2 separate regions of the Homo sapiens genome follow, and region 1 is linked to region 2. The links come from fine-mapping of genetic effects on gene expression. A gene starts in region 2. The other region holds a variant in brackets. All regions are shown on one strand. Distances are between the middles of the regions.

Region 1 (5,379 bases), 43 kb before region 2:
GTCTCTCAATACCGCGGTGGGCTAAGACTGTGTAAGTGGAACCCCATGGGGTAGGAGGAACCAAACCCTGGTGCAATCGTTTTGGAGGGAAATTTGGCATTATTTGGGAAAGTTGGGTACTCGCGTCCAGTAATACAGCAGCTCCACATTTAGGAACATCCAGCTAGGAGAAAACCTCCCACCTGTGTAGAAGACATGTCTAAAGATATTCATTAGGCCTTTATCTGCAAAAGGCCAGCAACATCCTAAATGCCTACCAAAGGGGGAATGGATAAATGGATTCAGGAGTGCTTTAATATCGCAGAATTCTAAACAACAGAGAGAATGAACAGAAATAAAGCTGCCTGCATCAACATAGATAAATCTGAAAAAACAAAATGAGTTGGGAAAAAATGCAAGCTGCAAATGAACACTTACAGTGTGATACTTTTATATTTATTTATTTATTTATTTACTTTTGAGATGGAGTTTCACTCTTGTTGCCCAGGCTGGAGTGCAAGGGCACAATATCGGCTCACTGCAACCTTCAACTCCTGGGTTCAAGCGATTCTCTTGCCTCAGCCTCCTGAGTAGCTGCGATTACAGGCACCCACCACCATGTCCAGCTAATTTTTTTTTTGTATTTTTAGTAAAGACGGGGTTTCACCATGTTGGCCAGGCTGGTCTCGAACTCCCGACCTCAGGTGATCCACCCGTCTCAGCCTCCCAAAGTGCTGGGATTACAGGCATGAGCCACTGGGCCCGGCTGATACTTTTATATTTTATAACCACAATAGCATGCATTTGTGATACCCAGATTTGCACTAGAGGCATAATAAATGATAGGCTGGCTGTCTTCACTAGCCCTACAGACCTAAGACTGTGTAAGTGGAACCCATTGGGGTGGGAGGAACCAAACGCTGGTGCAGTTGTTTTGGAGGGAAATTTGGAGGCCTGAGTAGCATACTTCATCTTGCTCTGCACTACTGTGGATGACACCATAGGAATTCCCTTGTCTTCTGGCTTCTTGTAGGAGATAAGAGGGCAGAAGTGAGGCCATGTGAGTTGGCTGTGTCCCTCTACTGAAGGCCACAGCTTCTACTGCTGACCTTCTTCAGGCTTTGGTAGGTGCTCACACCACTTGCCTCAGTTTCCCCATTCATAAAATGGGTATGATAAAAGTAACTATCTCCTAGGTGCATTATGTGGACTAGATAAGCATAGGCACTTGGCGCAGTGCCTGATAGGTTATAAATAACTCAGCAAAAGTTAGCTTTTATTGTTATTAATCACACCCTTTCTCCATTCCTACAAGGAACTCCTTCCCCACTGCCCCCCCTTTTTTTTTTTGAGGCAGAGTTTTGCTCTTGTTGCCCAGGCTGGAGTGCAATGGCACAATCTCGGCTCACTGCAAGCTCCTCCTCCCGGGTTCAAGCAATTCTCCTGCCTCAGCCTCCTGAGTAACTGGGATTACAGGCATGCGCCACCATGGCTGGCTAATTTTGTATTTTTAGTAGAGATGGGGTTTCTCCATGTTGGTCAGGCTGGTCTTGAACTCCCGACCTCAGGTGATCCACCCGCCTCGGCCTCCCAAAGTGCTGGGAATACAGGCGTGAGCCCCCACGCTTGGCCCCTTCCCCCCTTTTTAGACATGAAAATCTCATGGCTTCCCTTAATATTACTTGACATTCCAAAATACAGGTCTGAAAGCAATCCTTTTTCATAAAGCATGGGACTACATGTGCTTAGGAATTTCACAATTTTTTGAATTTTATAAATGCAATGTGGTGGGTGCATAGAGTCTATATCAGTGACTCTCATATGTGAGCGTGAGTCAGAATCTCCAAGAGGGCTTGTTAAAGCACAGAGGGCTGGGCCACACTCACTCCGTAGGTCTGAAGTGGGGCCTGAGAATTTCCATTTCCATTTCCCATTTGATGCCAATGCAGCTGGTCTCAGAACCACACTTTGAGAACTACTGCTATTTTACGACATCCTTAGAGGGGTCTAGAGCAGCACCCCCAAATCAAATATTATTATTTCTACTGTGGGCTGGGCATGGTGGCTCACACCTGTAATCCCAGCACTTTGGGAGGCCGAGGCAGGCAGATCACCTGAGGTCAGGAGTTTGAGACCAGCCTGGCCAACATGGTGAAACCCAGTCTCTACTAAAAATACAAAAATTAGCTGGGTGTGGTGGCGGGTGACTGTAATCCCAGCTACTGGGGAGGCTGAGGCAGGAGAATCACTTGAACCCGGGAGGTGGAGGTTGCAGTGAGCCTAAATCGTGCCATTGCACTCCAGCCTGAGCGACAGAGTGAGACTCCGTCAAAAAAAAAAATTAAAAAAAAAATCTTACTGTGAAATGTTAATGAAAGACTATAAATAGCCTTAAGCCAGTTCGGATTAGATTTAGCTACTGAGTAAGCTTTTATAAACTGATGCAAACGCTTTGAGTTTGCAGAGAATTTTGGATTTTGGAAGAGTGTAAGGGATTGTAGACTTGTAAATGAAATTTCATGACCAAAGATGAAAGCATATTAAAAAAAGTAATTTTCGAATATGCTTTTTAAAACTACACTTGATCCACCACCATCAGGGATTATGAATGTGGAATGAATGAATGAATGTGAATAAACTCTTAAGGAAGAAGAAAGGGCGAAACAGCGGGTCTTGCATAGTTTCTATTGGCCACCA[A/G]GTGGCAGTATCAGGTCTCTCTCAAAGTTCGGGAGTGCTCGGGAGAGGGGCGTTCTACGCTGTTACGTCAAAAACAGAACCAGGCTGTGGGTAGCTGCTCCATCTAGAAGAGCCCTTGGGAGATGCTATTGCTTTGTATCCAACTACTCCAAAACTTAGAGGGGTAAAACAACCATTTCATTATGCTTATGAATTCTGTAGGTCTGAAATTTGGAAAAGGTGAAGCAGGGATAGTTTGTCTTTTCCACATGTCCCGGGCCTCAGGTGGAAATACTTGTTGGCTGGGGGTGACTCACCAGCTGGGGGTGGGGACGTGGAGGGGGGGGTGACTCAATAGCTGGGAGCTGGAATCATCCGGAGGTGTCTTCATTCACCTGTCTGGGTATTGATGATGGCTGTCAGCTGCAACCCCTACCAAGGGTCTCTCTGTGTGGTCTCTCCGTGAAGGCTAGCTCAGGCTTCCTCACAGCATGGGCTAGCCTGGGCTTCCTCACAGCATGGGCTAGCCTGGGCTTCCTCACAGCATGGCAGCTGGGCTAGCTTGGGCTTCCTAGTATGGTTGCTAGGCTAGCTCAGGAACAACATGGCAGCTAGGCTAGCTCAGGCACAGCATGGCTGCTGGGCTAGCTCGGGCTTCCTCATAGCATGGCGGTTGGGCTCAAGTGTGAGTTTCAAGGAGAGGAGAAATAGGACACCCTTTGATGGGAGGGATGTCAAAGTCAATATATTCGTTTGCTAAGGCTGCCATAGCAAAGGACCACAGTCAGGGTGACTTAAGCAACAGAAGTTTATTCCTCAGAGTTGTAGAGGCAAGAAATCCAAGATGGGGTGTGGGCAGAGTTGGTTTCTCCTAAGGACCCCCTCCTGGGCTTGCAGATGGCTGTCTTCTCACTGTGTCCTCACATGGTTCTTCCTCTGTGTGGCACATGCCTGGTGTCTCCTCTTCTTATAAGAACACAGTCATACTGGATTACAGCCCCACCCTAACGCATTCATTTTAACTTAATCACCTCTTTTTTTTTTTTTTTTTTTTTTTTTGTCGAGACAGAGTCTTGCTCTGTTGTCTAGGCTGGAGTGCAGTGGCATGATCTCGGCTCACTGCAACTTCTACCTCCTGGGTTCAAGCGATTCTCCTGCCTCAGCCTCCTGAGTAGCTGTGACTACAGGCACACACCACCACACCCGGCTAATTTCTTTTGTATTTTAGTAGAGATGGGGTTTCACCGTGTTGCCCAGGCTGGTCTCGAACTCCTGAGCTCAGGCAATCTGCCTTCCTCGGCCTCCCAAAGTGCTAGGATTACAGGTGTGAGCCACTGCGTCCGGCCAATCACCTCTTTTAAGGCCCTATCTCCAAATGCAGTCACATTCTGAGGTACTGGACTTCAACGTATATATTTGTGGGAACATGATTCTGCTCCTAACAGCCACATTGTCAGACGATCATGTGATATATAGGCGATATCTGTCTTGGGAAAATGCGGTCTGCCATGGCACCCGTCCTCGAGGCACACTGCACACACCGATGGTGTCGCAGTTGGTCATGCACATCATTCTCAATCCTACCTCCACGCCTTTGGATGCACCGCTCTCTCTGCCTGGGATGCCCTTCCCTGCCCTCCTCTAACAGGCCACTCCTAGTCACCTATCCAGAGCTCTCTGCTCATCCAGAACATCCATGACCCTGCCTCCTGTCACCAATGTCAGGGACCATGATGTTTATCACCACTCTTATCACACTGATCACTAGCACCACCATTTATAGACTGCTGCTTTGTGTCAGGCTAAGCTCTTCTGAGCTCCTTTGATTCTCACAGCAACCCTGTGAGGTCCATTTCACAGATGAAGAAACTGACAGTCAGAGTAGGGGAGTTACTAGCCCAGGACCACAGAAGAAGGAAATGGCAGAGTGAAGACTTGAACCCAGGTCTGCCTGGTTTGAGAGACTGTGTTTGTCACCTCTAGCCACAGGGCCTCTGAAAGCCCTGGCATTGGTTAAGCCCCCTCCTCTGTGCTATGCTAGCCCCTGGTTTAATCCTATCAAAGCACCAATCCCCTCATTAATGCAGGTTGCACCAGCTCTAGTCTCACCTGCCAGGCTCACTTGCTTATGCTTGGGCTGTCCCAGGGAAGGTCTCACCTGAGCTTAGACATAGGCTGAGGGCCAAGCATGCATTGTATATTACATGGCAACGTCATGACATTAATGGAGTCCAATGGACCACACTTCCTGACATCCACGCCTATGCATAGCCCCCTCTCACACTGACTTGGGGCTTGTCCATGTGACTTGCGCTGGCCAGTGGGCCATCAGCAAACATGAGGCAGGCAGGAGCTTGGGATGCTTGTATACACAGGGCCTGGTTCTCTAGGAACACTGTCACCTTGTGAATAAAGTCGGAGTAGACTCCTTAAGGATGAGAGGCTACATGCACGGAATAATCCAGCCACTCAACCTGTTCCAGGAATCCCAGCTGATGCCCCAGACATGTGAGTGAGGCCACCTTGGACTGCCTGCCCCTGTTAAGTTCCGTATCACTATAGACATATGAGTGACTCTGGCATGACCAGCAGAAGAACTGCCCAGCTGAGCCCAGCATGAATTGCTGAGCCACAGAATCCTGAGCAAATACAATAGTTGTTGTTTAAGCAGCTAAGTTTTGGGGTGGGTGTTATGCAGCAATAGATAACCAATCCCCTGCTGTG
Region 2 (5,360 bases):
ATTATAATATTGTAGAATTATGGATGTGGAACTAAGAGATCATCCACCCCAACTCCCTCCAGAAGGTCACAAAGGACACAACTATGGGCAAAGGGACTTACCCAGTCACACAGTGAGGTAGTTCAAAGCTAAGCCCAACGGCTCAGTTCACAGGCTAGTACTTGCTCTTTCTACTCTGCCTTTAAAGCACGCAGTAAATAAATGTTTCCTGAATGCTTCTCAAAATCGCACTCAAATGCCACAAGTGCAACTCACCTCCCTTCTAAGATGGGTAAAACATGCGTACACTGGTATCCAGATGAAATGATTAGCCCACTGCACATCGAGTTCTTTGGCTTATTGTGGTAGAAGCTGAAGAGGCTGTCTATTCCATAGGCAACCTTGGGAATCCCGTAGCACTCAAAAAGAAGCTCAGACATCATTTGCCGTGAATACAGTGGGTTGCACACAGCTTCTGTCAAAACTATGGGATGATCAACACAGCCCTACTTTGAAAGAAAAGGGCAAATAAATGAGTGGTAACAGAATACTCTTTTTGAAGCATAAAAGAACCCAAAATCCTTATTGCAGGACTGAATTTGCTTTTGGCTTCTTAATCAAAAACCTGATCAGAGGCGATTATAAAACTCCCATCTCATCTTTACTTGAAAATACGAAAGTAGAGTCAATTTAAGTTATTAAGTCAAGGTCCCATCCAAACTGTCAGCAAATCGTGTTGGCTCTATCTTCAAAGTATTTCCAGAATCCAACTGCTTCTAATGACATTCCCTGCTATCTGCCTCATCTAAGCCACCATCATCCCTTACCTGGGTTATTCCAACAGCCTCCTAACTCGTCCCTGTTTCCACCCTATGATCCAAGACAATTCATTCTCCATACAGCAGTAATAGTGATCCTTTTAAAACACAAGTCAGGTCCTTCTTCAGCTCAACACCCTGCCATGGCTCCCCATTTCACTCAGTAAAAGCCTATAAGGTGTGTGATCTGCCTCTCCACTACCTCTCTGACATCCTCTTTCAGGTACTACTCTCCCCCTCACACAGGCAGCCTTGCAGTTAGGATTAGGGCACACTCCTGCCTCGGGGCCTTTTTACTGGCTGCTCCCTCTGCCTGGACCGTTTTTCCTTCAGATATTCACATGGCTTGCTACCTGAATCACCTCCTTCAAGTCCTTGCTCAAACATCACCTTCACGAGTCCTACCCTGACCATCTTACTGAAAAAATGTAACTCCCTCCTCTCCTATCACGGCGTAGAATCTACTATTTCTATGTTTACTGTCTGCCTTTTCATACTAGAATATCTTTCCATAGTATTAACAGCTCCATAAGCACAGGAAGTTTTGTGTTCACACATGTACTCCAAATGCCTAAAAAGTGCCTGACACAGAGTAAGTGCTCAATACGTATTTGTTAATAAATGGGCTTCTTAACAAACAAGCATATATGCCCAAAGGTATGCTCCAAGATACAAGGAGCAGCATTTTATTCGCTGCTACACCCACAGCGCCTAGCATCTGGTCGACTAAAAGACAATCGGAGCTACTGAAGTGACTGTTACCTCTCCGAGAGCAGAGTGAGCGGAGACGAGACCGCACCCCTCCCCTCAAACCCAGCCCAGCCCAGCCTACTCCGCCCTTCACCTGTGAGGAGACACCCAGGTGCTGGAAGCTGTAGTCCAGCAGCAACTCCTGAAGCTCCAGGTTGACCGGCACGTTGCGGTCGAAGGGCGAGCGCAGCATCCAGCGCAGTGGCTCCAGGCTGCCCAGAGCGTTCCCCACCTGCGGGCCCGACGCGCCCCGTGCCCCGCCACGACCGCGGGCGCACACCGCGCGGAACTGCAGGCGCGGCTCGGGACCTGGGTCCTGCCCGGGACACGCCCAGCCAGCGCGGACTTGGAACGACCCGTTGTCCAGCACCAGCGGTACCGGCAGTGGCCCGTGTGCCACCGGGCCGGCCTCCAGCACTGGGTCCGGTGCGGCACGGGCGTCGCGGAACGGGAACACGTTCGCCGCCATCTTGGAGCGCGCGTCCAGCCCCGCCCCTCGGCGCAGTGTCCGCCCAGACGCCGCGAAACCGCGCCCCCGACGTCACGCCGCGCGATTCAGGCCTTTAAGTACCTCGATGCCCCCTCCCTTCTCGAAGCCCGGCCAGCCTTTCCACTTGACTCGCCTCTGGCTGTCAAGGCTGCTTTCAGGATCGCTGAGACGTACCCATTCTGGCTGCGAAATTCTACGTTTCTTAACCTCTCCCCCAATAGCCTATGAGTGCCCACGCCCCTTCACTCTAGCCGGGACGCCCGGTTTGGAAGCCCCGCCCCAAAGCCTATCGCCGCCAGGCCCCGCCCCTTTCTGGCTGCCAGCTTCAGCGCCGCGCTCGGTGGAGCCCCGCCTCTCTGCCTGGCCACGCCCCATTGCCGGGCGCGCACCGTCGGCCGGGCGCGCACCGTCGGCCGGGCGCGCACCTTCGACCGCCGGCGGCCCCGCCTCCGCGTGGCTGTCTCGCCCTCAGTCTTGCGTCCTGGCTAGAAGGGTCCTTTATCTTTTGACGCTTCCTTTACGTTAAGAAATCTCAAACTCTGCCGACTGTTCAATTTCTTGACTAGGGAGCTGACTACTCAGTTCTGTTCACTTTACTAACTCGCACAGACTGTGTCTTCTCACTAAGACACAGTGTTTTCTCAAACCCTGAGAAAAGACTGCTGATTGTTCCCCAAGCATTCCCTCTCTTTTAGTGGCATCACCTCCCACTCCCACGTGGCCATCCGTCTGGCTGCGATCTAGATGCGCTCATGTGACTAAATTCTGGCCAGGAGCGGGTGGGAGAGGAGGCCATGTGTGTGACCCACTCAGTTTTAGCCCTAAAAGCACTCGTCGCGCTCTATCCTGTCGCATTTCCATCTTTTCACTAGCTAAGGGGGTAAGAATTAGAGCAGTTGTTTTACTACAACCTTTTTTTGTGCAGTGGGGCGATCTCGGCTCACTGCAGCCTCGACTTCCTGGACTCAAGTGATTCTCCCGCCTCAGCCTCCTAAGTAGCTGAGATTACAGGCGTGCACCACCACGCCCAGCTAATTTTTATATTTTTAGTAGAGAAGGGATTTCACTATGTTGCCCATGCTGGCCATAACCATTTTGAAAGAAGAAAAAGAATAGAGCAGCTGCCTTGAATCTACTCTACCAGGTCTATAACACTTCAGTTTGAGAGATAAAATCAAATTAGTTACAAAAGATATTGTAAGCGAGAAATGAAACTCCTAACTTATCTCAAGAACCTCTATTAACAGTGTTTGTTGTTGTTGTTGTTTGTTTTTTTTAAGACGGAGTCTGGCTCTGTCACCCAGGCTGGAGTGCAGTGGTGTGATCTTGGCTCACTGCAACCTCCACATCCCCGGTTCAAGCAATTCACCTGCCTCAGCCTCCCGAGTAGCTGGGATTACAGGCATGCTCCACAACACCCAGCTAATTTTTTTTATTTTTAATACAGACGGGATTTCGCCACGTTGGCCAGGCTGGTCTCGAACTCCTTGGCTCAAGTGATCCGCCTGCCTCGGCCTCCCAAAGTGCTGGGATTACAGGCTTGAGACGACGGGCCCAGCCTGTTAACACACCTAAACCAGATTGGGAGCCAGCCCAGTGGCAAAAATCAGGTTGTGTTGTCTTTCAACACACGTCCATTGTTCAGATATCTGAAGTAACCATCGTTAAGTTAATTAAGAGGGGGACCAGCAGAACACAGAAACCAGTAAATGTAAGTTAGTGAATGTTAATTTAAGAATTGTGTCTATGTATATTAATATGAAAAAGCACTGGCTGGGCGCAGTGGCTCACACCTGTAATCCCAGCACTTTGGGAGGCCGAGGCTGGTGGATCGCCTGAGGTCGGGAGTTCGAGACCAGCCTGGCCAACATGGTGAAACCCCGTCTCTAGTAAAAATACAAAAATTAGCTGGGCATGGTGGCAGGTGTCTGTAATCCCAGCTACTTGGGAGGCTGAGGCAAGAGAATCGCTTGAACCCTGGAGGCGGAGGTTGCAGTGAGCCGAGATCACGCCAGTGCACTCCAGCCTGAGCAACAAGAGTGAAACTTTGTCTCACAAAAAAGAAAAAAAGAAAAGCACCAAGGTAAATATATATATTATATATATTATTATTTTATATATATATGAGAGGCAACTCCAACGGGGATGGCCAGTGTGGTGGCTCATGCCTGTAATCCCAGCACTTTGGGAGGCTGAGGTGGGAGGACTGCTTTAGCCCAGAAGTTCAAGACCAGCCTCAACCTCACTAGTAGTTGGGACTACAAGTGCACACCACCACATAGAGACAGAGTTTTGCCATGTTGCCCAGGCTGGTCTTTATAAGCGTTTGGCACATGAGGTAGATTGGATTATTATTCCCAGTTCTTCATTCCTTTACTTTTTTTTTCTTCACTCCTTTATAGTAGGATGATACATCCATACCATTTGCCTTGTAACTTTGTAGAGCCTCTCCTTGAGGACACTGATATTAGGCTTGGTCATGTGACTTGCTTTAGCCAATGGACTGTTAACTGAATATGATTGGTTTAGATTGCCTTCTTGCACTCCTGCTTTTAGTCATGAGAGGAACATACCTGAGTCCAAAGAGGATAAGAGATACATGGAGCAGATCTGAACCTAAACTGCAGTCCGAAGCCAAGTCCAGCCAACCTGCAACCTAAAGTTGAGCTGCCCCATGGACCTCTGAACAAGAAAAATGTTTATTCTTATAAACCACTGAAATTCTGGAGTTGCTATGCAGTATTATTGCAGGAGAAAACCGACTAATACACTAGACCAATGCTGTCCAACAGAACTTTGTACATTGGAAATGTGCAAATTGATGGAGATGATCTAGTATCTGTTGTGTCTAACACAGTGGCCAGTAACCACATGTGGCCGCAGAGCACTTGAAATGTGAATAGTGTAACTGAAGAACTGAATTTTTAAAATGTTCTTAATTTTAATTTTTCTTTCTTTCTTTCTTTTTTTTTTTTTTTTGATGGAGTTTCGCTCTTGTCACCCAGGCTGGAGTGAAGTGGCACAATCTCGGCTCACTGTAACCTCTGCCTCCCAGGTTCAAGCGATTCTCCTGCCTCAGCCTCCCGAGTAGCTGGGATTACAGGCATGCACCACCACACCCCGGTAATTTTTGTATTTTCATTAGAGACAGGGTTGCACCATGTTGGCCAGGCTGGTTGTGAATTCCTCACCTCAAGTGATCTGCCCACCTCGGCCTCCTAAAATGCTGGGATTACAGGTGTGAGCCATTGCACCCAGCCTTAATTTTAGTTTAAATTTAAATAGTCATGTAGCTAGTGGCTACTCTATTGCACACTGTAGCA

The links. PIP is the estimated chance that this variant, and not a neighbour inherited with it, causes the effect.
Region 1: its variant is fine-mapped to the expression of ACTR5 in whole blood (TOPMed, PIP above 0.99). The same link has a PIP of 0.9 or more in T cells.

What each region holds. Positions count from the first base shown.
Region 1 is chr20:38,787,941-38,793,319 of GRCh38, reverse strand. No RefSeq gene overlaps it. Among named protein-coding and RNA genes, the nearest start is that of PPP1R16B, 15 kb to the left of the region's middle. The variant A/G (reference allele first, on the strand shown) is at 2,677.
Region 2 is chr20:38,745,135-38,750,494 of GRCh38, reverse strand. ACTR5 (actin related protein 5) reads right to left here and starts at 2,035. Exons shown (of 9, transcript NM_024855.4): 1 at 1,642-2,035; 2 at 256-485. The coding sequence starts at 2,016. RefSeq lists silencers at 1,800-1,989, 2,290-2,559 and an enhancer at 1,938-2,439.